4 linked regions of the Homo sapiens genome follow. The protein of the gene in region 1 purifies or fractionates together with the protein of each later gene. This does not show direct contact. Each region holds a gene or a part of one and is shown in the gene's direction. Other genes may lie near its edges. The genes, in order: METTL2A, MCCC1, ID4 and NDUFAF7.

The links.
Region 2: the proteins of METTL2A (region 1) and MCCC1 purify together in Homo sapiens (affinity purification with mass spectrometry; 2 studies listed by BioGRID and IntAct, with this or other methods). This does not show direct contact.
Region 3: the proteins of METTL2A (region 1) and ID4 purify together in Homo sapiens (affinity purification with mass spectrometry; 2 studies listed by BioGRID and IntAct, with this or other methods). This does not show direct contact.
Region 4: the proteins of METTL2A (region 1) and NDUFAF7 purify together in Homo sapiens (affinity purification with mass spectrometry; 2 studies listed by BioGRID and IntAct, with this or other methods). This does not show direct contact.

What each region holds. Positions count from the first base shown.
Region 1 is NC_000017.11:62,419,144-62,426,925, forward strand, and holds the start of METTL2A (tRNA N(3)-cytidine methyltransferase METTL2A), read left to right. Parts: upstream 1-4,753; 5' UTR 4,754-4,759; coding exon 4,760-4,869; intron 4,870-5,075; coding exon 5,076-5,167; intron 5,168-7,155; coding exon 7,156-7,511; intron 7,512-7,782.
Region 2 is NC_000003.12:183,089,490-183,096,520, reverse strand, and holds part of MCCC1 (methylcrotonoyl-CoA carboxylase subunit alpha, mitochondrial isoform 1 precursor), read left to right. Parts: intron 1-1,912; exon of another isoform or gene 1,913-1,915; coding exon 1,916-1,962; intron 1,963-3,975; coding exon 3,976-4,112; intron 4,113-5,563; exon of another isoform or gene 5,564-5,585; intron 5,586-7,031.
Region 3 is NC_000006.12:19,833,093-19,840,396, forward strand, and holds the start of ID4 (DNA-binding protein inhibitor ID-4), read left to right. Parts: upstream 1-4,277; 5' UTR 4,278-4,662; coding exon 4,663-5,103; intron 5,104-5,491; coding exon 5,492-5,536; 3' UTR 5,537-5,550; intron 5,551-6,117; 3' UTR 6,118-7,304. UniProt on the Homo sapiens protein: Transcriptional regulator (lacking a basic DNA binding domain) which negatively regulates the basic helix-loop-helix (bHLH) transcription factors by forming heterodimers and inhibiting their DNA binding and transcriptional activity.
Region 4 is NC_000002.12:37,241,658-37,248,657, forward strand, and holds part of NDUFAF7 (protein arginine methyltransferase NDUFAF7, mitochondrial), read left to right. Parts: coding exon 1-134; exon of another isoform or gene 135-767; intron 768-977; coding exon 978-1,036; intron 1,037-2,205; coding exon 2,206-2,316; intron 2,317-4,394; coding exon 4,395-4,538; intron 4,539-5,798; coding exon 5,799-5,972; intron 5,973-6,477; coding exon 6,478-6,693; 3' UTR 6,694-7,000. UniProt on the Homo sapiens protein: Arginine methyltransferase involved in the assembly or stability of mitochondrial NADH:ubiquinone oxidoreductase complex (complex I).

The sequences.
Region 1 (7,782 bases):
ACTCACCCATCCATTCATTCATCAATTATCTACTGAGTTGCATACTGTTTGCCAGACCTAGTTCTAGGACCTGGACATATAACAGTTAACAAACAAGTAAAATGACTTAACCTCACAGAGCTTAGTGATGGAGCTAATTATAACCATTGACTCAGCAATTCCTCTCCTAGAAATTAATCATAAAGAAATAATCATGAATGTACAAAATTATTTCATTACAAAGATGTACACCATGTTGAATTTTTTTCTGTTTTTTTTTCTTTCTTTTTTTTTTTGAGACAGAGTCTCACTCTGTCACCCAGGCTGGAGTGCAGTGGCGTGATCTCAGCTCACTGCAACCTCCGCCTCTAGGGTTCAAGCCATTCTTCTGCCTCACCCTCCCGAGTACCTGGGACTACAGGTGCGTACCACCATACCTGGCTAATTTTTGTATTTTTAGTAGAGACGGGGTTTCATCATGCTGACCAGGATGGTCTTGAACTCCTGACGTCGTGATCCACCTGCCTCGGCCTCCCAAAGTGCTGGGATTACAGGTGTGAGCCACTGCACCCAGCCGTTAAATTTTTAATAGTATGAAACTTAAAGTGACCTAAATGTCCAATAAAGCATGATATAGCTATACGAAACAATACCAGAAGGACATTAAGTGATGTTGTAAAAGAATATTTCGAACAAAAGAATAATGTCCCCAAGTTATTATTAAGTTAAAAAGCAGACTACAACTGCTAAGTGGCATGGGAGAACTTCAAGGCGTTGTTCTAAAACTAGATTGTGACACTGATTACACAAATACAGATTTTTATGAAAATGTATTGAACTGTACACTTAAAATGGATGAATGTAATTGGGTTTTCTTGTTGTTGTTGTTGTTGTTGTTTGAGACGGAGTCTTGCTCTGTTGCCAGGCTGGCCTGCAGTGGCACGATCTCAGCCCACTGCAACCTCCGCCTCCTGAGTTCAAGCGATTCTCCTGTCTCAGCCTCCCGAGTAGCTGGGATTACAGGCACCCACCACTGTGCCCGGCTAATTTTATTTATTTATTATTTATTTATTTATTATTTATTTTTTTTGTGTGTGAGAAGGAGTCTCGCTCTGTCGCCCAAGCTGAAGTGCAGTGACACAATCTCGGCTCACTACAACCTCCAACACCCAGGTTCAAGTGATTCTCCTGCCTCAGCCTCCTAAGTAGCTGGGACTACAGGCGTGTACCACCACCCCTGGCTAATTTTTTGTATTTTAGTAGAGATGGGGTTTCACCATGTTGGCCAGGATGGTCTCGATCTCCTGACCTCGTGATCCGCCCACCTCGGCCTCCCAAAGTGCTGGGATTACAGACGTGAGCCACCACACCCAGCCTAATTTTTGTATTTTTAGTAGAGACGGGGGTTTCACCATCTTGGTCTGGCTGGTCTCAAACTCCTGACCTCGTGATCCACCCACCTTGGTCTCCCAAAGTGCTGGGATTACAGGTGTGAGCCACTGCGCCCAGCCAGATGAATGTAATTGTTTAAAAAAAAAAGCACAAAGCATTTTGTTCTGAAACTATTTTAATGTAAAGTCACTTACATAACTAAATTAGAAAGAAAGAACTGGGATGATATAAGCCAAAGCGTTAATGAGTCAAATTAATGGTGGGAAGAAGTATTTTCTTTTGTTTTATCGATATCTTCTAAATGTTCTATAATAAAAAATCTATTTTGCAATAAGAAAACACAGGCCAGGTGCAGTGGCTCATGTCTGTAATCCCAGCACTTGGGGGAGGCCGAGGCAGACGGATTGCTCAAGACCAGGAGTTCGAGGCCAGCCTGGGCATCATGGCAAAACACTGTCTCCACAAAAAATGCAAAAATTATTGGGGTATGGTGGCACAAACCTCTAGTCCCAGCTTCTCTGTTGGCTGATGTGGGAGAATCACTTGAGCCTGGGAGGCAGAGGTTGCAGTGAGCTGTGATCGTGCCACTGTACTCCAGCCTGCGTGACAGAGTGATGCCCTATCTCAAAGAAAAAAAGGAGAAGAAAGGCCGGGTGCGGTGGCTAACGCCTGTAATCCCAGCACTTTGGGAGGCTGAGGCAGACGGATCATTTGAGGTCAGGAGTTCAATATCAGCCTGGCCAACATTGTGAAACCCGTCTCTACTAAAATGCAAAAATTAGCTGGGTGTGGTGGCGATGGCCTGTAATCTCAGCTACTCAGGAGGCTGAAGCAGGAGACTGGCTTGAGCCCGGGAGGTGGAGCTTGCAGTGAACCGAGATCATGCCACTGCACTCCAGCCTGGGCGACAGAGCTTCGTCTCAAAAAAAAAACAAAAAACAAAAAAACACAATTAACTACCCTTGTCCTTGGCTAACAACCTAAAGCAATAATCCAGAATGAGAGTTTTTAACCTTTACAAGCGTTAAACCCATGCCACCCACTGAGCTAGAAGAGTTCTCCTTACTTACCACCAGAGGGACCCTTAGTTCCTCTGAAACGTGGCGTTTCTGAAGCTACAATCCAGTATAAAGTCTGACACCAGAGAACTCACAGCCATGTCAAACTTATGAAAAATTATTTTAGGTGCTTCGAAAAATAGGTTTTACAGGCCAATCAAATATAATTGTATAAAATTAAGTTTAGGCCAGGGGCGGTGGCTCACTCCTGTAATCCCAGCACTTTGGGAGGCCGAGGTGGGTGGATCATGAGGTCAGGAGATCGAGACCATCCTGGCTAACACGGTGAAACCCTGTCTCTACTAAAAACACAAAAAATTAGCCGGGCATGGTGGCGGGCGCCTGTAGTCCCAGCTACTCGGGAGGCTGAGGCAGGAGAATGGCGTGAACCCGTGAAATAGGGAGCTTGCAGTGAGCCGAGATCACGCCACTACACTCCAGCCTGGTAGACAGTGCGAGACTCCGTCTCAAAAATAAATAAATAAAAATAAAAAATAAAGTTAAGTTTAGGATACTTTAGCACATTTCACAGAAAAAAGGCCAAAGCTGTTTGACATTTAAAATGTCTCCACTGGAACTAATATAGTAAATTAGAGTGAAGACAATGAGCTGTCTGCAAGAAAATATGCAGTGGGACTGTTGATTGGGAACACTAACAGCTTTTAGTGAGGGGAGAATAAAAGCCCATAGATGAGAAAACAAGATGCCAGAAATAAATGTAAATCAACCACCATATCTGCAAACAGCTGGCCTTGAGAAAAGATAAAAATTCCTTGTACTTGTTTCTGGGTATGGAGCTTGTGTTCAAAATGTTTCCGAAGACCACAAGAATGGCAAAAGCATATTGTCTTCAAATGAAGTACAACTTATTTACTATTTTTTTTATTAACTTGTGTATTTTTCTTCCTGATTAGAGAGGCTTAGAGCTTGTTCCCATTTCTTTGGAGGAAAAAGTATAGAATCATTCATTGCTCCCCGTAGTTTTACCTACAGAAAGAATTTACAATGGAATAAACAATTACTGGCTGGGCGCGGTGGCTCACGCCTGTAATCCCAACACTTTGGGAGACCGAGGCGGGCAGATCATTTGAGGTCAGGAGTTTGGGACCAGCCCAGGCAACATGGTGAAACCCCATCTCTACTAAAAATACAAAAATTAGCTGAGTGTGGTAGCGCGCACCTGTAATCCCGGCTACTCAGGAGGCTGAGGCAGGAGAACCACCTGAGCCCAGAACATGGAGGTTATAACGAGCTGAGATCCGGCTACTGCACTCTAGCCTGGGAAACAGAGCAAGACTCCGTCTCAAAAAAAAAAAAAAGTACTAATTACCCATGTGCTATGTCTAGCACTGCACTAACCCTTTCCTTTTTTAAAAAAATTCATCTTTCCCTTTATTCTGACATTATGACATTAAATAAAGTCCAAGAGGTATTGGGCTGGTCCTTGTTTGGTCTCTGCCCTTTCCTTCTTTTCCAAGTGGTATTCATCATGCTTCTCTTGGAAGTCTTCTCAAATAACCTTATGTCTATAACATACTTTCTTCTAGATTCTTTTGAGAGTCTATTTGTGTTAGATCTAGAAATAGAAATGTAAGGCTGAAATGTATTACTATGACAAACTGTTTGTATGTGTGTATTACAATCTTAATTGTGCTAATAAGGATAATTATAATAAATATGCATGATTCAAAAAGGTTAGATGGTTATAATTTAAAAAAAAATTGTCCTTGGATATTCCATTTGATTTGCTAAGCCTCGTGTTCTCTAATTTCATATCTCCATCTCCCCCTACCCCAACCAAAATATATATACACACTGTGTATACATATACACCCACACTATTAAGAGCTGAATATAGAAGCTGGAAATTGCCCTGTTTCTTCCCGCTGCTTGCTACCTTCTTCAGTTCTGGACATCGGCTCCGCAGTGGAACTAGGTAGCCTCAACTCTTATAATGATTCAAGATTTTTCCTGTTTTATAACTTGAGGGAAGCTGGGGAACCTGTTAAGAGGATCCCAGCATTGAACTGGGTCTCAAGTGGAATGTCTCCCACTTTCTGCCTAACCTGCACGTCCATCAGCACCTCATCAATGAGAAACGACTCCTCCGGGGAGAATTTCCCCCTGCCTGGTCCCCTCTCCTAGAGAGCCCTTCGCCAACCCTGGGACAGCCCCAAACGACAGCTCCCGAGCGCCACCCGGACCAGACTCCAGTGCCGCCCTGTCCCGCCACCCTTTTTCCCGCCCAGACTCCGCGTCTTCTGAAAGAGGGCGTGGTCCGCAGGAAGTTCTCACGTTACGGAAAGTAAAGTGTTTCCGGCTCCGGTGTCATGGCCGGCTCCTACCCTGAAGGTGCACCTGCAGTCCTCGCCGATAAGAGGCAGCAGTTCGGAAGCCGGTTCCTGAGAGATCCGGCGCGCGTCTTCCACCACAATGCCTGGTAATCACTCTGCCCCTTCGCCCGGCCTGTCGCTGACCCTCTGTCCCGCCGCCTCGGAGCACTCCGAAAAGCCCCTGACCGCCGGCCACGAGTCAAGCTGCCCTACCCGAGGCACTCTCCAAGGGGAGAGAAACTCCTAGGCCAGCGACTCACCCTGCCCGCAGCCAGGACGTGAGGCCCCTAAGCTGCCCGTTTGATTTTCTCAGGGACAATGTGGAGTGGTCGGAAGAGCAAGCCGCGGCGGCGGAGAGAAAAGTCCAGGAGAACAGTATCCAGCGGGTGTGCCAGGAGAAACAAGGTGCGCTTAAATGGGCTCTCATTGGTATCAACAGCCAGCGTACTGCCGAACGCGCCCTCCCGGAGAGGCCAGGGAACCGCGGCCGCCCAGATCCTTTATTCCTGGCCTGATGCAGATCTCAGGAGTAGAGCGGGACAGGGAGGGGATGAGCAAGGAGAGAAAAGGGCTGCATTGTAACAAAATCTTAAGTCGTAGAGGGTTTTTTTATATATAGTTTTACTTTGGAGGAGGGTAATGTTGTCTTTAATTATGTTTAGTAGATCCACGTTGATATGGCTAGCCAATGACAACTGTGTGGTCACGCGATCATCTTAGAACCTGTACTTTTTACTTGATTTGCATTTTCCATGAGGAGATGTTTTCCATTGAAGCTTCATTGAAGTGATTAGATTCTAAATATTGTTGGGAGGGGGGCTAGTGACTGGTGACTGTGTGTCTATTACTTGTGTGATGGTTATGAGAATTTAGGGCTTTAGTCAAGGAAAGGTGGATGCAGCAGAGTGGAGATAAGTCTGGCCAAAGAAAAGGAGGCCCCTGCTTGAGAGGTGGATGATTTCACTGCAAAATATCCCTAGATAGTAAAACTAGGACTGATTGTTCCAGACAATTGAAGATAGGACTACAAATTTAGTACCCGCTGAAAGAGTTCTGTACAACAAAAAGATTCCAGTTACAAAACATTCACCCTGCATATTTTGACAGCAACTAGATCAAAGCAAGTTAATAGTTGAAAGGGATTTTGAAAATCATGTGGTTCAATATTCTCTTTTTATAGTTAAAGACACTTGGACCACAGGACATTAAGTGCTTTTCCCAGAGGTAAGCAGTCAGTAGTAGCAGTAGTGGAACTAAAATCCTGTTTCTTAGGGAGTCTTGGTTGATTCAGCAGGTGAGTTGTGAGTTGTTAACACACTTCTTAGTGGATTCCAACTTCCATTGTCACTGTCCTGCTCAATTTGTTAGGTTTTTATTCTTTCTACTACACTAGTCAAGGCCCCCTGAATTGGCAAGAGCAGTAAACTGAAATCTGGGACTGTCATGATCACCTTAAAAACAGCCTTCATTTAAACTGTCCATACTTTTTTTTTTTTTTTGGAGATGGAGTCTCGCTCTGTCACCAGGCTGGAGTGCAGTGGCACGATCTCAGCTCGCTGCAATCTCCTCCTCCCTGGTTCAAGCGATTCCCCTGCCTCAGCCTCCCTAGTAGCTGGGACTACAGGTGTGCACCACCACGCCTGGCTAATTTTTTGTATTTTAGTACAGACGGGGTTTCACCGTGCTGGCCAGGATGGTCTCGATCTCCTGACCTCGTGATCCGCCCACCTCAGCCTCCCAAAGTGCTGGGATTACAGGCATGAGCCACTGCACCTGGCTACTTCTAGGATTTTTTAATAGTTAAAAGTCATCTGGCTGGGCGCGATGACTCATGCCTGTAATCCCAGCACTTTGGGAGGCCGAGGCGGGTGGATCACGAGGTCAGGAGATCGAGACCATCCTGGCTAACACGGTGAAACCCCGTCTGTACTAAAAAATACAAAAAATTAGCCGGGCGTGGTGGCAGGCGCCTGTAGTCCCAGCTACTCAGTAGGATGAGGCAGGAGAATGGCATGAACCCGGGAGGTGGAGCTTGCAGTGAGCCAAGATTGCGCCCCTGCACTCCAGCCTGGGTGACAGAGCGAGACTCTGTCTCAAAAAAAAAAAAAAAGGCATCCAAAGATGTAGGAGGACACTTGATAGATAGTAAGTTCTCTGGTTGATTGTTCAAACAGAATTTAGACTCTCCTATAATGACGGATAGGGGCATTAGGGTATAATGCCAGATGGCAGGACTAAATGACCTCAGAAATGCCTTCAGTTCTGGGACTGTGGCTCTACCTGAGGATACTTTTAGTATTAAAGTGACATTTGGTAAAGCAGGATAATTGATATTAGATATAAATAAAACATTTGAGAGCTGGTTCTTAAAATTTTTTCTTAAATATTTACAGTTGATTATGAGATCAATGCCCACAAATACTGGAATGACTTCTACAAAATCCACGAAAATGGGTTTTTCAAGGATAGACATTGGCTTTTTACCGAATTCCCTGAGCTGGCACCTAGCCAAAATCAAAATCATTTGAAGGACTGGTTCTTGGAGAACAAGAGTGAAGTACCTGAATGTAGAAACAATGAGGATGGACCTGGTTTAATAATGGAAGAACAGCACAAGTGTTCTTCAAAGAGCCTTGAACATAAAACACAGACACTTCCTGTGGAGGAGAATGTAACTCAGAAAATTAGTGACCTGGAAATTTGTGCTGATGAGTTTCCTGGATCCTCAGCCACCTACCGAATACTGGAGGTAACCTTTTATTGTCTTGGTAGTGGGATATGTGAAGCTATTATATTTGTGCACATGAGGTAGCATAGAGAGGCTGACAACAAAAGTAACTTCTATTGGATGATGCTGACTAGACTTGACCCTTATATTAGCCTGGAATCACCTCCATTTTTGAACTGATAAAATGCCCTCAATGCAGACCAGATATCTGGTAGTCATGACGGACAAAGATCACACGAGAATAGCATGTCACTTCCAAAAATTGTATTAATGGCATCATGCTGTACCTGTC
Region 2 (7,031 bases), on another chromosome or scaffold:
TAGTTACATAGTTTCTAATGCACACGCTGTGCTTTTATCTTGTGCTTTGTGAATAATCTAAAATGGTTAGTTAGTCCTTTATAACCACATCTTCCAGGTATAGACAAAAAGATAGGTGGAATTGCTTCTGTAATTTGTTTGTTTCCCTGCATATGCTTTTTATTTATTTATTTATTTTTTTTTTTGAGATGGAGTCTCACTCTGTCACCCAGGCTGGAATGTAGTGGCACGATCTTGGCTCACTGCAACCTCCACCTCCCAAGTTCAAGTGATACTCCTGCCTCAGCCTCCCAAGTAGCTGAGATTACAGGTGCGCACCACCACACCTGGCTAATTTTTGTATTGTTAGTAGAGATGGGGTTTCACCATGTTGGCCAGGCTGGTCTCGAACTCCTGACCTCAGGTAATCCCCCCACCTCAGCCTCTCAAATTGCTAGGATTACAGGCGTGAGCCACTGCACCCAGCCCACTTATCCTCTTTAGCTGAAACTTAATAGACGTTATACTTTTTTGTTCCTAAAGTGAATCTGGCCTGTTTTCTGTCAGCTCTTGGTTACTTTATTTTATACACAGGTATCACGAAACTTAAAAATTGTTGAGACTTCTACCTCATTAAAATACCTCAAGTCATTTTGTCTCCCCATTTCTCCATTTTTTTAAATACAAGGACTTGGAATAGAATTGTATAGTACTTTTAAATCTGAGAGGTACCTTCAAGATCACCTCTTATAGTCTCATCTCGTGTGTGAGAACACTGAAGCCCAAGCTATTAAATCTTGCATCCTCAACTGGGATGATACCACCGCTAAAGGGTGGAAATTGATTCTTAGGAGAGCCAGGAAATCTTAGATTTTGTCATGGTTTACGGCTTTCCAAAGCTCAACCTTACCCCACCCTTCCTACAAGGAATAAAATCTTTTAAAAGTTTTCTCATTAGGAGAGTAATAATGAAAAAAAAGTTGGAGAAACACTGATGTAAAGTGACTCGACCCTGGGCAAGCTGGTCATTGGAGGGACTCGGATGAGAATGCAGCTTTTCTGGTCCCACAGCCAACATTCTTTCTGTTGCCCCTGTTTAACTTCCGTTTATTTCTCTGGTCTTACTTTTTAAACATGTCTCATGTTTAAACTTGATTGGTATTTTTCAAACTGTAGATTGACCAGCATATTTTAATAAAATAGGATACAACTGAAAGAACCAAAAGAGTTTTGTTCTTTTTGTTTTTGTTTTTTTTTTTGAGACGGAGTCTCGCTCTGTCACCCAGGCTGGAGTGCAGTGGCCCAGTCTCGGCTCACTGCAAGCTCTGCCTCCTGGGTTCACGCCATTCTCCTGCCTCAGCCTCCCGAGTAGCTGGGACTACAGGTGCCCGCCATGACGCCCGGCTAATTTTTTGTGTTTTCAGTAGAGACAGGGTTTCACCGTGTTAGCCAGGATGGCCTCAATCTCCTGACCTCATGATCTGCTTGCCTCGGCTTCCCAAAGTGCTGGGATTACAGGTGTGAGCCACCGTGCCTGGCCAGGGCAGAATGAGTCATTTTTAACAAAACATCTGTTTTCATTAAGTGTGTGTCCTGGGTAGTTTGTATTGTGAGTTGTAGCCAAAAAGGTTTCAAAAAAGCTAAACTAGATGATGTTGGTATACCTTGGTTGTTTAATCATCTCTGACTGTGGTCTTATGCCAGCCTCAGGAACAAGCAGGCTAGGTGACTCATTCAAGGACAGGTAGTACGAGGGAAAACAGCCAGAACTCTAACTCTTGAGTTCTAGATTAGTTTTCTACCCACTAAGAAAGTCTTACTAAAGCACTGTTAGTTGGCTTAAGGTTTCATGTTTTAAGAAACTGAAATTCTTTTGAAAGAACAATTGTGTTGCCTATTCTGTTTAATTGTAATTCCTTTTGGATTTATGTTATAGGACATGGGTGTGGAGGCAAAGAACCATGAAGTACACAACAGCCACAGGTACTGACAGACTTTGTTGTTCTATTTGATTTTGCTTCAGACTGGAAGTGTTTAAGAAAGGGAAATGTTTAATCCCTTAATATATGCATAATAGAATTAGTTATCATAAATTTTGGATTTTCACGATAATTTTCTAGGAAGTGTTAAGTCATGGTTTTCACCTCTTTTGTATCAAATCTCTCTTGCTGTTAAGTCTAAAATACAGAGGGCAGCCGGGCGCAGTGGCTCATGCCTGTATCCCAGCACTTTGGGAGGCTGAGGTGGGTGGATCACCTGAGGTCAGGAGTTCGAGACCAGCCTGGACAACATGGCAAAACCCTGTGTCTACTAAAAAATACAAAAATTAGCTGGGCGTGGTGGCGGGTGCCTGTAATCCCAGATGCTTGGGAGGCTGAGGCAGGAGAATTGCTTGAACCCAGGAGGCGCAGGTTGCAATGAGCCAAGATCTCGCCACTGCACTCCAGCCTGGGCGACAGAGCAAGACTTCGTCTCAAAAAAAAAAAAAAAAAAGTAAAAATAAATAAATAAAATACAGAGGGCAATAATGGAGAACATTTTATATTCGTTTGTTCTTTCTGTCCATTTGACCCTCTTAGTGTATTGGATTGGAAAATCATAACTACGATGGTCTAAAGCAGTTCTTTGAAAAAGCTATTTTAAGTAGCAAAACCTTTTTTTCCAAATAAAATTTAACATGGAATTCCCAACTATGAAACATATAAAAGTGTAATAAAGTATAACTTCTAGCTGATTGGATATAGCCCTCTACCTACTGTGCTCTCCTTCCCCTGCCCACACTCATACATATGTCATCCATCAGCCCCTGTGACAACTCTTGGGCTCCATAGAGCCCCATCGAAAAACACTTTTAAATTAGGTGCAACCTTTTTTTTTTTAAAAGGAGAAATAACTTTATTATGTTGAGCCTATGGATTCTATTGAAGAAATAACTTTATTATGAACTGTCAAAGAACATTTATTTCACGTGTGATATTAGAAGTACATTTTATATATGCAGTAGCTTGTCATTATGGTGCCATGCCAGTAGACTGGTACAAGAGTCACTTGTGTTGCAAGAGAACCACACACACCTATGTACATAGGGATAGAGGCAGAGGAGCAGAGTGACTGAAAGCTTAAATTCTGGAGTGACGCAGATCTAGGTTGAAGTCCCAGATTGTTTCTTTAGCTGTGTAATTTTGGGAAAATAATAGCTCTTTCAGCATTAGTTTCTTCATCTTTAAAATTGAGATAACAATGATAGTATCTATTTCATTAGGATTATTGTGAAAATTTAAGTCGATGTTGAGTCTTTAGCACAGGACCTGAGGCACAGAAAGTGCTTATTAAAGATTAGTTAGTATTGGCCGGGTGTGGTGGCTCACACCTGTAATCCCAGCACTTCGGGAGGCCAAGGCAGGTGGATCACCTGAGGTCAGGAGTTCGAGACCAGCCTGGCCAATGTGGTGAAACCCCGTCTCTACTAAAAATACAAAAATTAGCCAGGCGTGGTGGCAGGCACCTGTAATTTCAGCTACTCAGGAGGCTGAAGCAGTAGAATTGCTTGACCCTGGGAGGTAGAGGTTGTAGTGAGCCGAGATCACACCATTGCACTCCAACCTGGGGGACGAGAGCAAAACACTGTCTCAAAAATAAATAAATAAGTAAATAAATAAATACATAAAAGAGTAGTTATTAATGATGATAATTTAACACTATTATAATTTGATCCTTGGCATAACAAAGCATCTTTTAATTTTATTTTATGTTGCTTTGTATTTTAAGTTTAAAAAGCTGAGTAATTTATGTTAATGAGTACCTTGAATTTAAGAGAAAAGAAGTGCACTGTCTAATATTAGTTAAAGTGGTCATTTTGGGCTCAGTTATGCTAGTTTTACCAAAAACCTTGAACTTATCAGTCGAGTCCTTATCAGCCAGTTAAGATCGTATTCTCATTCTCATTCTTTGCTCTCCAGTAACATTTCTGTGTGATTTTCATGGTGTTTTAAACAGGAAGAAACATTACCAAGGTCCTCATTGCAAACAGAGGAGAAATTGCCTGCAGGGTGATGCGCACAGCCAAAAAACTGGGTGTACAGACTGTGGCGGTTTATAGTGAGGCTGACAGAAATTCCATGCATGTAGATATGGTATGTGTTAAAAATTGGAAGCCACGTCTTACGTTTATTCGTTTACTGTGTCAGTATTTTCGTTCTTTATGATGACAGTTGATATTTGCTAGTGTTATCAGGGTTGAAGTAGGTAAGTTCAAACTGCTCACTGCTAATTCTTGGGAACATTTTTCAGATATAACATCAGTTGAACTAAGCGGTGTGCTTAGTAGAACAGTTGATTTACAGGCAAGGTCTTTATCTCCTTGAGGATTGGTTAAAACGGTTCACAGAATGTTGCGGATCCACTGACTACACTTTGAGTAGCTCATGTCCAGATTCCGTATATACAAGGAGAAAGATCCAGGCTCTATTCTTTTTTTTTCTTTTTTTTTTGAGATTGAGTCTCGCTCTGTTGCCCAGGCTGGAGAGCAGTGGCACAATCCCGACTCACTGCAAGCTCCGCCTCTCAGGTTCAAGCGATTCTCCTGCCTCGATTCTCCTGCCTCGACGTCTAGAGTAGCTGGAACTATAGGTGCCCTCCACCACGACCGGCTAATTTTTTGTATTTTTAGTAGAGACAGGTTTTCACCGTGTTAGCCAGGATGGTCTCAATCTGCTGACCTCGTGATCCGCCCACCTTGGCCTCCCAAAGTGCCAAACAGGCGTGAGCCACCGTGCCTAGCCAATCCAGGCTCTATTCTTAGCACCTGCTACTTACTGGCTGAGTGATCTTAGCCAAGTCACTTCATGTTTCTGAGCCTTGCTTCATCTGTAAAATTATAACTAATAAGACCCAACTCCCTGAAGTTTGTGAATGTTACGGGTGAGTTATTACTAGTTTTTTTTGTTTTGTTTTGTTTTGTTTTGTTTTTGTTTTTGACAAGAGTCTCACTCTGTTGCCCAGGCTGGAGTGTAGTGGCGTGTTCTTGGCTCACTGCAACCTCCACCTTCCAGGTTCAAGTGATTCTCATGCCTCAGCCTCCTGAGTAGCTGGATTACAGACACACACCACCACGCCTGGCTACTTTTTTGTATTTTTAGTAGAGACAGGATTTCACCATGTTGGCCAAAATGGTCTCGAACTCCTGGCCTCAAGTGATCCACCCACCTTGGCCTCCCAAAGTGCTGGGATTACAGGCGTGAGCCACTGCGCCCAGCCTATCACTAGCTTTTATCCACCAGAAATAACTCCAAGCATAGGTGACTCCCACTGTTGGACTTCATTATGCCTGCAGTAAGACTCCAAGCACTAGCATCAATTCATGATGAGCAGCCTCACCTGGGCTTTTATCACTGTACAGCAGGCCCTTGTGGCTCTCTAGCCACTGTTTTTCTCACTCTGTGCAATGAGTATTTCAAACTTGTTTCGCTTCATTCCAACCTCCAATTCTCCCTCTACCCACCTTTTTGCAGCAGGATGATCTTGATTTCACAGAGAAAATAAAATTGAGGTTCCTGCCACAGAATCTGCTGACTTAGTTATGTCTGCATCCATCTTTCCCATCGAAGGTCAGTGCTCTGGATCCCTTCTCTTCTTGTCTTTTTAAGAATTTTCCCGGCTGGGCGCAGTGGCTCACACCTGTAATTCCAGCACTTTGGGAAGCCGAGGCAGATGAATCACCTGAGGTCAGGGTTCGAGACCAGCCTGACCAACATGGAGAAATCCCGTCTCTATTAAAAATACAAAATTAGCTGGGCGTGGTGTCACATGCCTGTAATCCCAGCTACTCGGGAGGCTGAGGCAGGAGAATCGCTTGAACCCGGGAGGCGGAGGTTGCAGTGAGCTGAGATCGTGCCATTGCACTCCAGCCTGGGCAACAAGAGCGAAACTCTGTCTCAAAGAAAAAAAAAAAAAGAATTTTCCCAAAATAAGAGAGTAAATTTTAAATGTCTTACCATGAAAAAATATTAGGTAAGTGAGATGATGCCTAGGTTAATTGGCTTGATTCAATCATTCCACATTGTGTGCATGTGGCAAAACATCACATTGTACCCCATAAATGCATACAATTATGATTTGTCAGTTAACAGTATTAATAAAACATAAAGCAAAATGAGACATTCCTGTGTCAAAAAGAAAAGGATCTTCTATTTTTCAATGATGGGTCTTCAACCACTCTCTACTAGACTGATACTATCCATGTCCCTAAATCCAGTGGAGTCTCCAGGGCTGAGCTGACTTGACCCCTCAGCAGCATTTAGCATCCTAGTACACTGCTCCCTTCTTTTAGAAATAAATTCTTCTCATGGCATTCTCAGCCTCTTGCCTTCTTGTCTTCTCTCAGTGTCCTTTATCTGGACCCTACCCATCTACCAGACCCTACCCATCTACCAGACCCTTATGTTGAAGTTTCTTGGGACTTGGTCCTTGGCCCTCTTTTCTCAGTGTGCACTCTCATTCTGGATCATTTTATATACTCCTATAGCTTTGAGAAAAACTCCCAAATTTCTATTTTTAGTCCAGACTTTCTTTTGAGCATGATACATATATATCCAACTGCCCATTCAACATCTCCACTTCAATATTGTCACAGGTACCAAACTAGTGTGACTGAAATTGAACTCATGACCTTTCACCTATACTGAACCTGCATTTCTTACAGAATTCCCTAACCCCGTAGAGTACAACACCATTGCTAATAAAAACAATAATGTCAGAGATCTAGAAGTCTTTGAGCATTTTTCTCTCTTCTTTCCTACTCTAGATCCTTCCCCCCTCATCTAGTAAATGACCAAGTACTGTTAATTGTATTTCCCAAACATTTCTTTCCACTTCTTTCCACCCCCTCCCACCTATAACTTAACTCAAAGCCACAGTCACCTTTTTTTTTGAGCCAGGGTCTCACTCTGTCAGCTAGGCTGGAGTGCAGTGGCACAGTCACAGCTCACTGCAGCCTCAACCCCCCAGGCTCAAGCAATCCTCCTACCTCAGCCTCCTGAGTAGCTGGGACTACA
Region 3 (7,304 bases), on another chromosome or scaffold:
GATAGATCCAATATCAAAAATATGAGCCATAAAGGAACAAACTGATAAACTAGACACCAACAAAATTTAGGGTGGGCATGGTGGCTCACACCTGTAATCCCAGCACTTTGGGAGGCCAAGGTGGGCAGATCACCTGAGGTCAGGAGTTCAAGACCAGACTGAACAACATGGTGAAACACCATATCTACTAAAAATACATAACTAGCCAGGTGTGGTGGTGGGCGCCTGTAATCCCAGCTACTTGGGAGGCTGAGGCAGGAGAATTGCTTGAACCTGGAAGGCGGAGGTTGCAGTGAGACAAGATCATGCTATTGCACTCCAGCCTGGGCAACAAGAGTGAAATTCTGTCTCAAAAAAAAAAAAAATCAAAACTTCTGCTCTAAAAGAAGATTGTGAAGTAAATGAAAAGTCAGTCCACAGACTGAGAGATATTTGCCAAAAATGGTAATACATTGTAACATGGTTTGCCCACTTATGTGCCAACCACTGTTCTAAGAACTTTACTGAATTTCTTTTACAGAGACCATATATATAATATGTGTATCTCATAAACACCTTATGAAGTAAATGCAATTTTAATCATTCCAAATATGAAAGGTATAGGAATTTAAGAACCCAGCTGAATGATATAAAACTAATAAGCAAAGAGGCCAAAATTGGGGCTTAGGCTGTCTCACTTCAGAGTCCATGCTGTTTATATCTCCTAAGGTAAAAACAAATTCCACTTATTTCTCCCCATTTTTCTGTCTTTTAATCTAAGGGGGGCTTTCAAAAAGTCACTTCTTATTTAAACCAACTACCTTTAAAACTCCCCAAACAAGGCATTTTTGACAGCCACATCTGCCCAGCCATGTTCAACGTACAACGTCCTCTTCCTACAAGCCTTTTCCAGGACCTAGCAAACTAAGGGGTTATCAGCATTTCCGGGACTAGTATCAGCAATCCAAGGGTAGCACAAGTAATTTTGTAACACTTAGTGCCTGATAAAGCAGCCTTGAGCTTGAATTGCCACATTGCCCAACTTACTCTTTGGGAGCAAGGGACAGTCCTGCTGCAGAGTACATAGTGGTTTCTTATGCCCTCAAAGAATGCATGTGCCTCTTTCTGTGACGACAAATCTACAGAGTGACCAAGGCATTGGAACATTCACGTTTATCTGTGTATGAGTACACTCACTGTTTCCCTGGAGGCTATGGAGAAACAAGTATCAAGTCCTAAAAAGGCACTGGGAATGAAGAGCACAATATGCTTCCATACCCTTGCTTCATGTAAACACAGGGTGACTATGACTTCTAAAGGCCTGGGTGTTGCAGTTCAGTGAGGGCCTGATTTAGTAGCTAGAATACATCTCAGGGAGGACAGCAGACCTCTTTGTCTGGAGGAAGGGTGTATCCATGACTCTGGTCATCACGGCTTTCTAGCAATTCTCCTATGAATGTTTCATTCTAGGTTCCTACTGAGGTATATTTTGGGAGTCTCGAGCATTTCCATGACAAAAGGATTTGGGTTAGCCCATTTTACTTTTACAAGTGCAAGTGAAACACTTTGATGTAAAAGAGTCACCAACAGACTAAGTTACCTTCTCTGCACAGTAGAAATAACATAGCTTGTAAGGTTTATCCAAAATCTGAGTGATAATTGGGTAAACTGTTTTGAATTATCAGTGCCAGGAATCTTCCATGATTGCAGCTTTGATGTCATGTAAGTGTCTATGTCTAAGAATACAAAAACATACATTGCATAGCCCCTAGTACTCTCTGGTTTCATGGACCAAAACGTGCAGGATTGTATTCCTTATTCCCATAGTATATGGTAGCACTTTAATTTTTTAATGTCTTCATGCCTTCCAACCTTCAAAACAAGGAGCACAGTAACTGCCTCTGCCTACTCTGCTAGCAGGATTTACGGATCACATCTTTCCTGGGTATTCTTGATCTTGTGGCTGAGGTACATTCCTTTGAAACCACCTCTTCCACCCCACCCCACACAGAGTAACTCAGTCTTTCTAACTTTAAGCCAGTCACACAGAGCATCTCCAACAAAACCTGAAACTTAGGCATTTGGCGCTTGTCACACCCAAGGCATGGCTTTCTGAGATTTAGCAAATTCCAAAAAGGTCGATATGATTCTTCCTTTGTGTTACGTATTCAAAACTTAAATTTTAATTTTAATCGTTAGGATATGTAAAATGTTTAAATGTAAGTGTGTCCTGGGCATATTAGCATAGTTTTATTTTGCCAAACAGAGGAAAGTCTTGGGTTTTGAATTTGGAAGCAAATTTTAAACTCTAGGAAAGAGAAAGATCAATGGAACAAAACATCTGTACATATATCCATTTATTATTATCGTCTGTGCTCATATGACTGGCTCCAAGATAATAGCTTACAACCAGTAGTGCTGGCTTCACCGACTTCCCATTTAAAATTACAACATTTTCTCTGTATTTGCATTAATTTAATGATGTATATGACTATGCCTGTCTTTAGAAGAAAGCCCTTCTGAGTTTCATAATTCTGATTTTCTCGATTAATGTGTATGTAGACCATCTACGTATGCACATAAATAAATGAGAATGGCACTTGTTTCCAAACAATTATTAGAAGCAGTAACATACAAGGATTAGGGGAGAGGAGGGTTATTGCATCTACCTGTGAAACCAGAATTAAATAGTTGCTCCTCATTTCATCAGGAGAAAGGAATGTGCTCTGGGGAATAGTGCGATAGTCATAAAGCACTGACATAGCTAAACAAAATATCTGCCTGGTGCAGGTATTTCAGTTCTGGGAATGGATGTAGAAAAAGTCCATATAGGGGTAGACAGGAAGAAATGAGGTCCATGTCTCTTTCTTTCAATTATCTATGAAAATGAAGACACCAATCCATGTCATGTACACGAATGAAGAAAATTCTTGGGTTAATTCATCTCCAAGCGTGTCTAAAGGTGGGAGGGTTTGTAGAGTGAAGGCACTCAAAATTCATTTCCCCATTGTCTGAGAATTTTTATGCACCTTTCTCATCTGAAGGGCTCAATTTTTTCTTGAAGGGTACACACAATGCTCCACCAAAGCTCATTGTGCAATTTTATTTTGAACCCTTGAAGGACAGCTTTTCTCTAAGAAATCTAACACAAAAACGCCCTTAATTAACAGGCTTTTTTTTGCAGGGTGGGGCCCAAGCGGGATCCCAGAGACTGGAAGTGTGAATTTTAATGCTTTGCTGTCAAAGGAGGCGACTCTGGACATTCTCATCACCTTATTTAAAGCGGGGTACGCTGACTAATACGTGAAGCTGTGCATTAATGGCCTAAATTAAGTTACAGGTATGAATTTTACATAAAACAGATTAATATTATATGTCATAATGGAATTTTAAATATTCCGTGTCCATGCATTTTTAATCTTTACGTGCTCTAATTGAATGCGCAAGGCAACTGCATTTCTTGAGCCCACTTTTGCATTTAGATGGGGTAAAAGAACCCCCCCCACGTTTTTGTTTTATTTATATTCCCTTCACCAAAAACCTGCATTCGATTCGGCATTCTTTTCCTTCTTTTTTTTTCTACTTTTGCTAAGCTTTAGCATTTTTTAAAAAGAAAACGGAAAGGCTACACATTCCATTCCATCATTATGGTTTCGGCAAATGTGAAAAGGCGAATAATGAAACGGAGGAGGGAAATATAGAACAGAATGAACGTGCCTTCTTGAACAGCGCGTCTTTCTTAAGGCACTGGAATCCCACGGATGGAGTGATGGGTGGCGGAGGGTCCCTGGGCGCCGTGCTATTAGGAGTGGCAGGGTATCCGCGAGCAGGGCCCAGGCGCTCCCTCAGCAGCCTAGTCGGGATAAGGGGGGCGGTGGAGAGTGAATTCCGGCCGCACATTCCCGCAGTTCTTCGCAGGAACTTCGCTCTCTCTTTTCCCCTCCCTTGGGCACACATCAGCCTGGCCCGACTCCCACTCAGCTCTCTTTTCTCAGAACCCCGACCCACAGCGTTGACGGAATGGAGTGCCCTTCCCATTGGCCCGAGCGTCATTCCCCGAGGTGGCACTGCCCGCCTGATTGGCTGGCCACTCCAGACCCCCCGCCCACTCCTCCACTCGGGTAGCCGGACTCCCCGCCCCCCAGCACCGCCCGGAGCCCCCGCCCTCGCCTCTCCCTCCGCGCCCCCGCCCGCGCGCCCAGCGGGCTCCGCTCGGCTCGCGCTGCGACCCGGCCCGCGCGCTGGTCCCGCCCCCGGGGCGCACGGCTCTATAAATACAGCTGCGCGGCGGGCCGGGCGAGAGCGTAGTGGAGGAGGCGCGGTTGTGAGTAGTACCGGGAGTGGGGTGATCCCGGGCTAGGGGAGCGCGGCGGCCGCGATCGGGCTTAGTCGGAGCTCCGAAGGGAGTGACTAGGACACCCGGGTGGGCTACTTTTCTTCCGGTGCTTTTGCTTTTTTTTTCCTTTGGGCTCGGGCTGAGTGTCGCCCACTGAGCAAAGATTCCCTCGTAAAACCCAGAGCGACCCTCCCGTCAATTGTTGGGCTCGGGAGTGTCGCGGTGCCCCGAGCGCGCCGGGCGCGGAGGCAAAGGGAGCGGAGCCGGCCGCGGACGGGGCCCGGAGCTTGCCTGCCTCCCTCGCTCGCCCCAGCGGGTTCGCTCGCGTAGAGCGCAGGGCGCGCGCGATGAAGGCGGTGAGCCCGGTGCGCCCCTCGGGCCGCAAGGCGCCGTCGGGCTGCGGCGGCGGGGAGCTGGCGCTGCGCTGCCTGGCCGAGCACGGCCACAGCCTGGGTGGCTCCGCAGCCGCGGCGGCGGCGGCGGCGGCAGCGCGCTGTAAGGCGGCCGAGGCGGCGGCCGACGAGCCGGCGCTGTGCCTGCAGTGCGATATGAACGACTGCTATAGCCGCCTGCGGAGGCTGGTGCCCACCATCCCGCCCAACAAGAAAGTCAGCAAAGTGGAGATCCTGCAGCACGTTATCGACTACATCCTGGACCTGCAGCTGGCGCTGGAGACGCACCCGGCCCTGCTGAGGCAGCCACCACCGCCCGCGCCGCCACACCACCCGGCCGGGACCTGTCCAGCCGCGCCGCCGCGGACCCCGCTCACTGCGCTCAACACCGACCCGGTGAGAGGCCGGGCGCCGGCCGTGGGCGGACGCCGCGGGGGATGGGAGGTTGGTGGCGTGGTGGCGGGACGCGGGCGCTCACCGTCCTCCGGGCAGGGGCGGGCCAGGAATGACAGCCCCCTCCCCCTGCTCCTCCGGGCTCCCCCGGGCCGCCAGCAGCCGGCCGGGCTCGGCGAGCGCGGGTCCGGGAGAACGCGCAGGGCGGGACTCGGGGCTGTGGGCGCCCTGGGCTGTCAAGTCCCGCCTGAGCCCGGAGGGGCCCCCCCGGCTACAGGCTGGGGTGGGGGCGTCGGCGCGCCAGCCTGATTTCCGAGGACAATCCAGGACCGTGTCGAGCGCGTTGTTTGCGCCTGCTAACCTTTCCCTTGGTGTTCGGTTGCTGTTCCAGGCCGGCGCGGTGAACAAGCAGGGCGACAGCATTCTGTGCCGCTGAGCCGCGCTGTCCAGGTGAGCGCGCATTTCCCGTCTCGGGTGGCCGGTCACCAGAGACGCCCGTCCCCGAGGGCTTCCGGGGCCAGGCACCGCGGTGTTCTTTGCCCCCAGCGTTTCTGAGAGCAAACTCCCAAGGAAGTAAATCCCCTCTCTCCCTGCCACCTAAGTAGCAAGTAAACCCGTACTTAGCCTTAGAACTCGAGGTTCAGTCTCGGTGGAGACGGGTCAGCCCTTGTCCCCGCCGTCCCCGTGTTTTTTCTGGTGGTCAGCGGGCTCTTCTGCCTTCCCTAGTTCCCGAGGGAGGGCACCCTCGTGGGCATGGGAGCTGCCCCGGTGTCCTCCCGTGCAGTCTGTCACCCACAAAGGGGGACGCGGGCAGGGCGCCGGAGTGGGTCCCCTCTCCGGGCTTCCCGAGGGCCGCAGCTGCCTGCTCGGCGCCTGGCCCGGCCGCGGGCGGGTGTTGTCTGACCTGGTGGTTTGTTTTGGGTTGTTGATCAAGCATGTCTTGAGTTTGGTCGGTGGCGCCAGTTAGTCTGCAGCGAGAAGGTTCACACACCCCCTCTATTCATTCCTCTTCCACAGGTGTGCGGCCGCCTGAGCCCGAGCCAGGAGCACTAGAGAGGGAGGGGGAAGAGCAGAAGTTAGAGAAAAAAAGCCACCGGAGGAAAGGAAAAAACATCGGCCAACCTAGAAACGTTTTCATTCGTCATTCCAAGAGAGAGAGAGGAAAGAAAAATACAACTTTCATTCTTTCTTTGCACGTTCATAAACATTCTACATACGTATTCTCTTTTGTCTCTTCATTTATAACTGCTGTGAATTGTACATTTCTGTGTTTTTTGGAGGTGCAGTTAAACTTTTAAGCTTAAGTGTGACAGGACTGATAAATAGAAGATCAAGAGTAGATCCGACTTTAGAAGCCTACTTTGTGACCAAGGAGCTCAATTTTTGTTTTGAAGCTTTACTAATCTACCAGAGCATTGTAGATATTTTTTTTTTACATCTATTGTTTAAAATAGATGATTATAACGGGGCAGAGAACTTTCTTTTCTCTGCAAGAATGTTACATATTGTATAGATAAATGAGTGACATTTCATACCATGTATATATAGAGATGTTCTATAAGTGTGAGAAAGTATATGCTTTAATAGATACTGTAATTATAAGATATTTTTAATTAAATATTTTTTTGTAAATATTATGTGTGTGTTTTTTTTTAATCTATGGGAATATTTCTTTTGGAAAATCATTTTTCAGCTCAATTACAGAGCTCTTGATATCTTGAATGTCTTTTCTGTTTGGCCTGGCTCTTAATTTGCTTTTGTTTTGCCCAGTATAGACTCGGAAGTAACAGTTATAGCTAGTGGTCTTGCATGATTGCATGAGATGTTTAATCACAAATTAAACTTGTTCTGAGTCCATTCAAATGTGTTTTTTTAAATGTAGATTGAAATCTTTGTATTTGAAGCATACATGTTGAAAATACACCTTATCAGTTTTTAAGTACAGGGTTTTATAGTGTAATATATACAGAGTAAGTGTTTGTTTTTGTTTTTCAACTGAGGTCAAAATGGATTCTGAATGATTTTGCATATGGGATGAGGAAATGCTTGGATCCTTAAGGAGTTTACGAAATCTGCTGTTTTATCAAAGTGAAAAAAAATTGCTTATTACTCTTCATTTTACACTAAAGCTTAATGTCACTAAGTTTCATGTCTGTACAGATTATTTAAATCATGGAAATGAAAAAAATGTTCTCTGCTTGCTA
Region 4 (7,000 bases), on another chromosome or scaffold:
GATTCAAGCATTGACACTGACTAAAGAGAAGGTCCCGTTAGAGCGAAATGCTGGATCCCCAGTGTATATGAAAGGTGTCACTAAGTCTGGGATTCCAATTTCCTGGTACCGAGATCTGCACGATGTTCCAAAAGGTAATTACCTTTATGTGGATTAATGAAAGAATTTTGATCACAACCCTCACAGTATTGATGGGACTGTAACTTTTTACAGCAATATAATAGATTGAGTTACTGCTGCCAAGTCCCTTATCCATAGAGAGTAGCCTACTTTTTTCTAGAAAAGAGCATCTTAATAGAAAATAAAGTTGCCTGACATTAAGTAGTAGTTTATTTCATGAAGCTTTGTAAAATCCCAAACAAAATGTAAATCTCCTTTGTACTTTTGAGTATTTCCCTATAGCTAGGGTTGTACCGATGACGGAGCAGCCCAAGGCAGCTGGGGCTGATGGAAGCAGTGTTAGTAGGTGGGTTTAGTTCAGTTATAGAGTCTTTTAAAAAATCCTTACTTGCCTAAAGACAAGCAAGGTGTGGGGGAAAATCCCTGTACTAGTCAGGAATACTGACTAGTATTGACTAGTTTGAGTCTTGACTCAAAGCCAAAGTGGGGGTACGATCTTGGGTAAGGGATCTCAAGCCATTCCTGCCTCAGCCTTCTCAGGCTGAGAAGCCCGATTTTATGAAATCAAATTCCCTTCCAGCTAACAACTCTGACTTCTAATTTCTTTCAAGCCTTGTGATGAATAAAAGCTTTAACTGCTATTTCAGGTATTTCCATTTTCTGACCCCATTTATGTGTAAAATAAGAATAGTAATAATTGTTCTATGTTCTGCAGTGTAAGTTTTCCATGAAGAGGTAGATAATTCTGTGGTAGTGATGATTATGGAGGAAGTAGGCATTTTTTTTACAGTTAATATTCAAAAGAATTAATTCCTGTGAAATGTGGAAACATTAATTGTTTTCCTCTTTTTAAATAGGGTACAGCTTTTATCTTGCACATGAATTTTTTGATGTTCTTCCTGTGCATAAATTTCAGGTATTGAGGGGGGAAAAAAGTCATGTCTATAATTGAATACAAAAGGCATTGTGTTGCCAATGTTTATGGTATTTATTCAGTATACAAATTTTACTTGTTGAGGTTATTTTTAACTATTATTTGGAATTTTGGTACACAAATAATTCAAAAGCAAAAAATGAAATATTAATGAGAATTGTTAGTTCTCCTGGGATAATTATTAAGAATTCTTAATTCTTCTGATTTGAAGAAGTAAGGGAATGAAAAATGGTAAGATGGTAACTGGCTGTGGTGCAATGAAGGATTTACTTAAGCAAAAAAAAAATTTTCTTTTTTAAGAGATAGGGTATTGCTATGTTGCCCAGGCTGGTCTTGAACTCCAGGGCTCAAGTGTTCATCCTGCCTCAGCATCCCAAGGAGCTGGGACTACAGGTGTGCGCCACTGCACCCAGCCAACCTTAGCACATTTTAAAAAATTATAGATTAAACTTTTTTGGGCCAGGCATGGTGGCTTACACCTGTAATCTCAGCACTTTGGGAGGGCGAGGTGGGTGAATCACTTGAGGTCAGGAGTTCAAGACCAGCCTGGCCAACATGACAAAACCCTGTGTCTACTAAAAATAGAAAAATTATCTGGGCTTGGTGGCACGTGCCTGTACTTCCCAGCTACTAGGGAGGCTGAGGCATGAGAATCACTTGAACCCAGGAGGCAGAGGTTGCAGTGAGCTGAGATTGCACCACTGCACTCCAGCCTGGGCAACAAAGCGAGAGCTTGTCTCAAAAAAAAAATAATAAAACTTTTCTTCATTCTTTCTGTGAGGAGATTTAAGATTTGGTGATAATGTATATGTACTGGTAATTTGTGAGGAGAAGAGCAGCTCTCATGATCCTGTAGTAATTTGTTAGTAAAGCTTCTGGCTGTTCTTCCTGAGTCTATTTCCGTTTTTGGGGTACTTTCCATGCTGCTGATTTTATCTTCCACAGCGTCATCTCTGTTATTGTTTCTTTTGCATCGATTGGTCTACTCATTGTTCAAAGGCAATGAAGTAATGAATTTAAGTAATTTTAAATAGTAAGTTCTCTGTAAATGTTAGTTACTTATGGTAAGAGGAGAAAAAGCTATTTTTGGTAGAAGCAATGTAGAGAACAAACTTGCAAAAATTTGTTTTTATGTGTTATTTTGTGTTTAGAAAACACCACAGGGATGGCGAGAAGTATTTGTTGACATTGATCCACAGGTTTCTGATAAACTGAGGTTTGTTTTGGCACCTTCTGCCACCCCAGCAGAAGCCTTCATACAAGTAAGAATATGCTTTTTTAAGTTTCTTTTATTGCTCACAGAATCTTCAAAGTCTTATTTTCTGAGTTACTACTTTAGAGTTTTAGAGTTCCTTTACAGGAAGAGTTGCTAGTAGCATACGAGGTGCTTTTTATTGACAGTGAAAGTGCAGAGGAGCTAGAGGCAGGAGCATGGGTTAAAATCATTTCTTAAGTGTGTGACCTTAACGTCATGTAGTAAGAGAAAGTAAGTAACCGCTTACTCAGCCAAGTCTCTTACTTTCACTGCTTATCTCAGTTTCATGTCAAATGGTAATGGTATTGTCCACAGGAAGAGTTTACATCTGTGAAAGCAATGTAGTACAGACTATAGTAAATTAACAATAACAGCTAACGTTTGTTGAGTACTTTGTGTTACTCTGTTTTCTCATTTAATTCTCAAAGCAACTATATTAGGTAGGTTCTATTATTATCCTTCTTTGGGCTACAGCATGGCTTTTATCCCATGCTTCCACACAGATCTCAGTTTGATTCGGCCAGAATGGTAGAATTACTACTGCTTTCTGTTGATCTCAAGGAATCATTGCAAGAGCCTGTCTATTGTGGCTTGTTTAAAGGTACAAAAAAATCCCTGTACTTCTCAGGAACGTCCAGGCTTCAGACTGCCTCTTTTTTTTTAATCCTTTTTTTCCAGCTCAGAAGATGATTTTTACTTTCTGGACCTTAACTGAGAACTTCTTACTTAGAAATTATCAGTTTTAAAAGCACAAGAGCTTTTAAACTTAAATGTATGAATTAAGTTTTGTTAAGTATAAATTTAAATGTCAGACTGAACACTTATGAACACCTGTTTTTTCATAGTATAGCAATCTAAGTTTACCTGAATGACATATTCATAGAACTACCAAGAACTAACCTCCTGGCCCTGGGAGTTCATTTAGTTCTTGACCTAATTAGTATTCACTTAGGAAGGGAGGGAGCGAATATTCTCTTTCACTTGAATGAGATGCGTGGTAATACATGTCATCTTGAAGAGTAGCCTAAGATAGAATGTCAGCATGATCAGCGTGTCCACTGATGCCTGATGAGGCTGACTTCATGGTTTTTATAGTTAAGCCACAGTAATTTGATTGCACTATTAGCTAAATGGTTAGTTATATTTAATCCTCACAATAAACCTACAATATCTATAAGGAAGAAAACAACTCAGAAAGTTTAAGTAACTTGTCTACCAGTAAGCATAGGAAGAGCTGAGATTTAACTTCATCTGACTCTATGCCTGTTACCATAGGCAGACATCAGGGCAGGTCATTACTGCATTTCTATAATAAGGTGTTAGGAAGGAGTACAAGTTAATGTATGTTTTCATAATGAAGGGAAAGAAATACCACATTTTCAATCAGATCAGGAAGTAGTGAAATTTCATATATACTAGTCAGGTTGACAAGTGTTAATACTTAGTGTGATTTTGCTTTTTAAGCTAGTACACACTTATTGTGGCCCCTTAGTTAAGTGGACATCTTGGGGTAATAACGGTTTCAATACATTGGCACTAGTTTATAAGCCAGCGTTTCTTGATGTAGGGCATATCATTGGGATACTTTCTGGCACAACAGAGGGCATGATAATATAATTGTCTAATAGGGTCTGCTTCGTGTTATTGGATTTATACCATTTGTTCTTTCAGCACAATATTTTCATTGACTGTTATGTGCCTGGCACTGTTCTAGGCAGACAAAAAAAATCCCTTTCCCATGCTTTCAACCTAGAGGAATGTGTTTATATGATTTGTGATACAAAAGTAATTTTACATTAAATGATAATGCTCTAGGCCATCTGGGGGGATTGGGAGGGCATTTGCCTTTTTATAAAAGAGATTAAAATGTCTTTGTATATCAAGTGGGATAGCATCAAAGAACTAAGGAGTTTTGTATAATAAAAAGGGAGTCAGGTGAAAAGTTGAGTGTAGAGAACATACTCATATTAAGAATTTATTTTTATTAAAACTAAGAAATGCTCATTGAGGAAAAACCTGAAAAACCGTAAGGAAGTCATTCTTTTGAATGATGCATTTTGACTCTTGCAATGATCCCTTTACTAGCATGACGAAACAAGGGATCATGTTGAAGTGTGTCCTGATGCTGGTGTTATCATCGAGGAACTTTCTCAACGCATTGCATTAACTGGAGGTGCTGCACTGGTTGCTGATTATGGTCATGATGGAACAAAGACAGATACCTTCAGAGTATGTATAATTCAGTAACATGATTTATCAGAATTTCAGTGTTAGATCTGAAGCCCATTGAAGAGCTTTGATTTCTACAGTGCCTGGTATTGTTGTATTACATTATTTTATAGTTAACATTAATTCATGTTATTGTAATTCCCCTTAACCCTAGTTCTTACTGCTAACACTGAGTCTACTGTCCAGCCCTCCTTTAACAGGATCTGAATTGTGTACATTCTTCCTTAGTTGTAGAACCTATGTTTATATAAATCCAGATAAGCAGCTGAATAATACAAATGGAAAGATTTTCTTCACATTCTTAAACCTATCTGTAACCCCCTTCATTCAAGAAAAATTTTGGTACTTCTTTACAGATTTAAACTACCTACTGTAATCATTCTAGCTTTTTCTATCATATTTTCAACATTTTTTCCCTTTCCAGATGTATTCTTTTACACTGTTCCTAAACATCCTTTCTTAATGATCTTTGAATATAATCAATTCTATTCAATATACTTTAATTGAAAAACATTTAACTAAATGCTCTTAGTCATTTTCTAGGTCTGTGGTTCTTAATTTCTAACTTTATCTAAAAATAACCTGGATAGTTTGTTGAAAATACTCATTCTCTAGCCTTACCTCCAGGATTCTGACTGACCAGGTCTGGTTAGGGTCAGTAATATATTCTCAGGTGATTTTTTTTTAAGTAATTTCAACTTTTATTTTAGATTTAGGGGGTACATGAGGCAGGTTTGTTATTTGTTACATGGGTATATTGCATTGACTCTGAGGTTTGGGGTACGAGTGAGCCTGTCACCCAGGTGGCAAGCATAGTACTCAGTAGATAGATTTTCAGCCCTTGTTCCCCTCCTCCTGTCTCCCCTCTAGTAGTCACCAGTGTTTGTTCCCATAAGTATGTTCACGTGTACCCAGTGTTTAGCTCTAAGTGAGATGTACATGTGGTATTTGGTTTTGTCCCTGCATTAATTCACTTAGGATAATGGCCTCCAGCTATGTCTACGTTGCTGAAAAGGACGTGATTTCATTTTTTTTTATGGCTGTGTAGTAGTTTGTAGTGTATCTCAGGTGATTCTGATGCATGGTTGATGCATATACTTTGTAAAACACTGCCTAGGTGTTCCCTGCCTAGAGAATTAATGAGAGCTCTATTCCGTCACCTCAAGCATTAATGTAAATATTAAATAACTTTAATATGATAGCATTTCTTTAATCTTAATAACCATAAAAGGGCAAAAATCTGATTTCTTTATGTTCAAGGGGTTTTGCGACCACAAGCTTCATGATGTCTTAATTGCCCCAGGAACAGCAGATCTAACAGCTGATGTGGACTTCAGTTATTTGCGAAGAATGGCACAGGGAAAAGTAGCCTCTCTGGGCCCAATAAAACAACACACATTTTTAAAAAATATGGGTATTGATGTCCGGCTGAAGGTAAGGTTTATTTTATTTCACTGTTATTAAGTACTTTCATAGTATTTCAAAAATTACTTTAAATAGTATGTTCACCTGGCCTTAATGCTCTTGTAGTTAGCCAATCCTTGGTATTCCAGTCTTTTCAGGTAGTATAGGATTTAGTAACTAGTCTGGTAAGTTTTATGCATCTCCATGGGAGGTAGCATTAAGACTTCCAAATAGTGTTTTTGTTTGTTAAGAAAACTGCGTTTATGGGTATGAATTTTCTAACTGTTCTTCTGAGAACACCTAAACCTTACTGTAGATCAAACCCCCTGAGGATATTTGTTAAAAATGCAAATCCTTAGGTTTGTTTCACACCAATCTACATTTTTAATAAGTACTCTATGATTCTCAGGCAGGTAATCAGAAGTCACATTTTGAGTGCTGTTTTATTGGAATATTTGAGAGTCATTAGTATTGCTGCATGTAACTAGGAATCCTGTCTTCTGGTTATTTTTGCTAAGAATTTTTTTCTTTTCAGGTTCTTTTAGATAAATCAAATGAGCCATCAGTGAGGCAGCAGTTACTTCAAGGATATGATATGTTAATGAATCCAAAGAAGATGGGAGAGAGATTTAACTTTTTTGCCTTGCTACCTCATCAGAGACTTCAAGGTGGAAGATATCAGAGGAATGCACGTCAGTCAAAACCCTTTGCATCCGTTGTAGCTGGGTTTAGTGAACTTGCTTGGCAGTGATATTTCAGCTTGGACATTTTACCCTTCAGTCGGCCCAAGAAATCAAAATAAAGGAAACACATTTCATATACTGCAGGTAACAAAAGTCAAAGTATTTTATCTTTTCACAGCAAGAACAGTCCATGTTGTATATAATACAACCAACATTATAGAACTTTTAGGGTTGTGACTGGCTTTGGTGCAAATGTGTGCTCAAGCTAATAAGTTATTGTGAAACTGAGTTTCCTTTAACTTACAAAGCTAGTTGCCATATTTCTATTTTATTTTAAAAAGTAAACATGCGGCTGGGCGTGGTGGCTCATGCCTG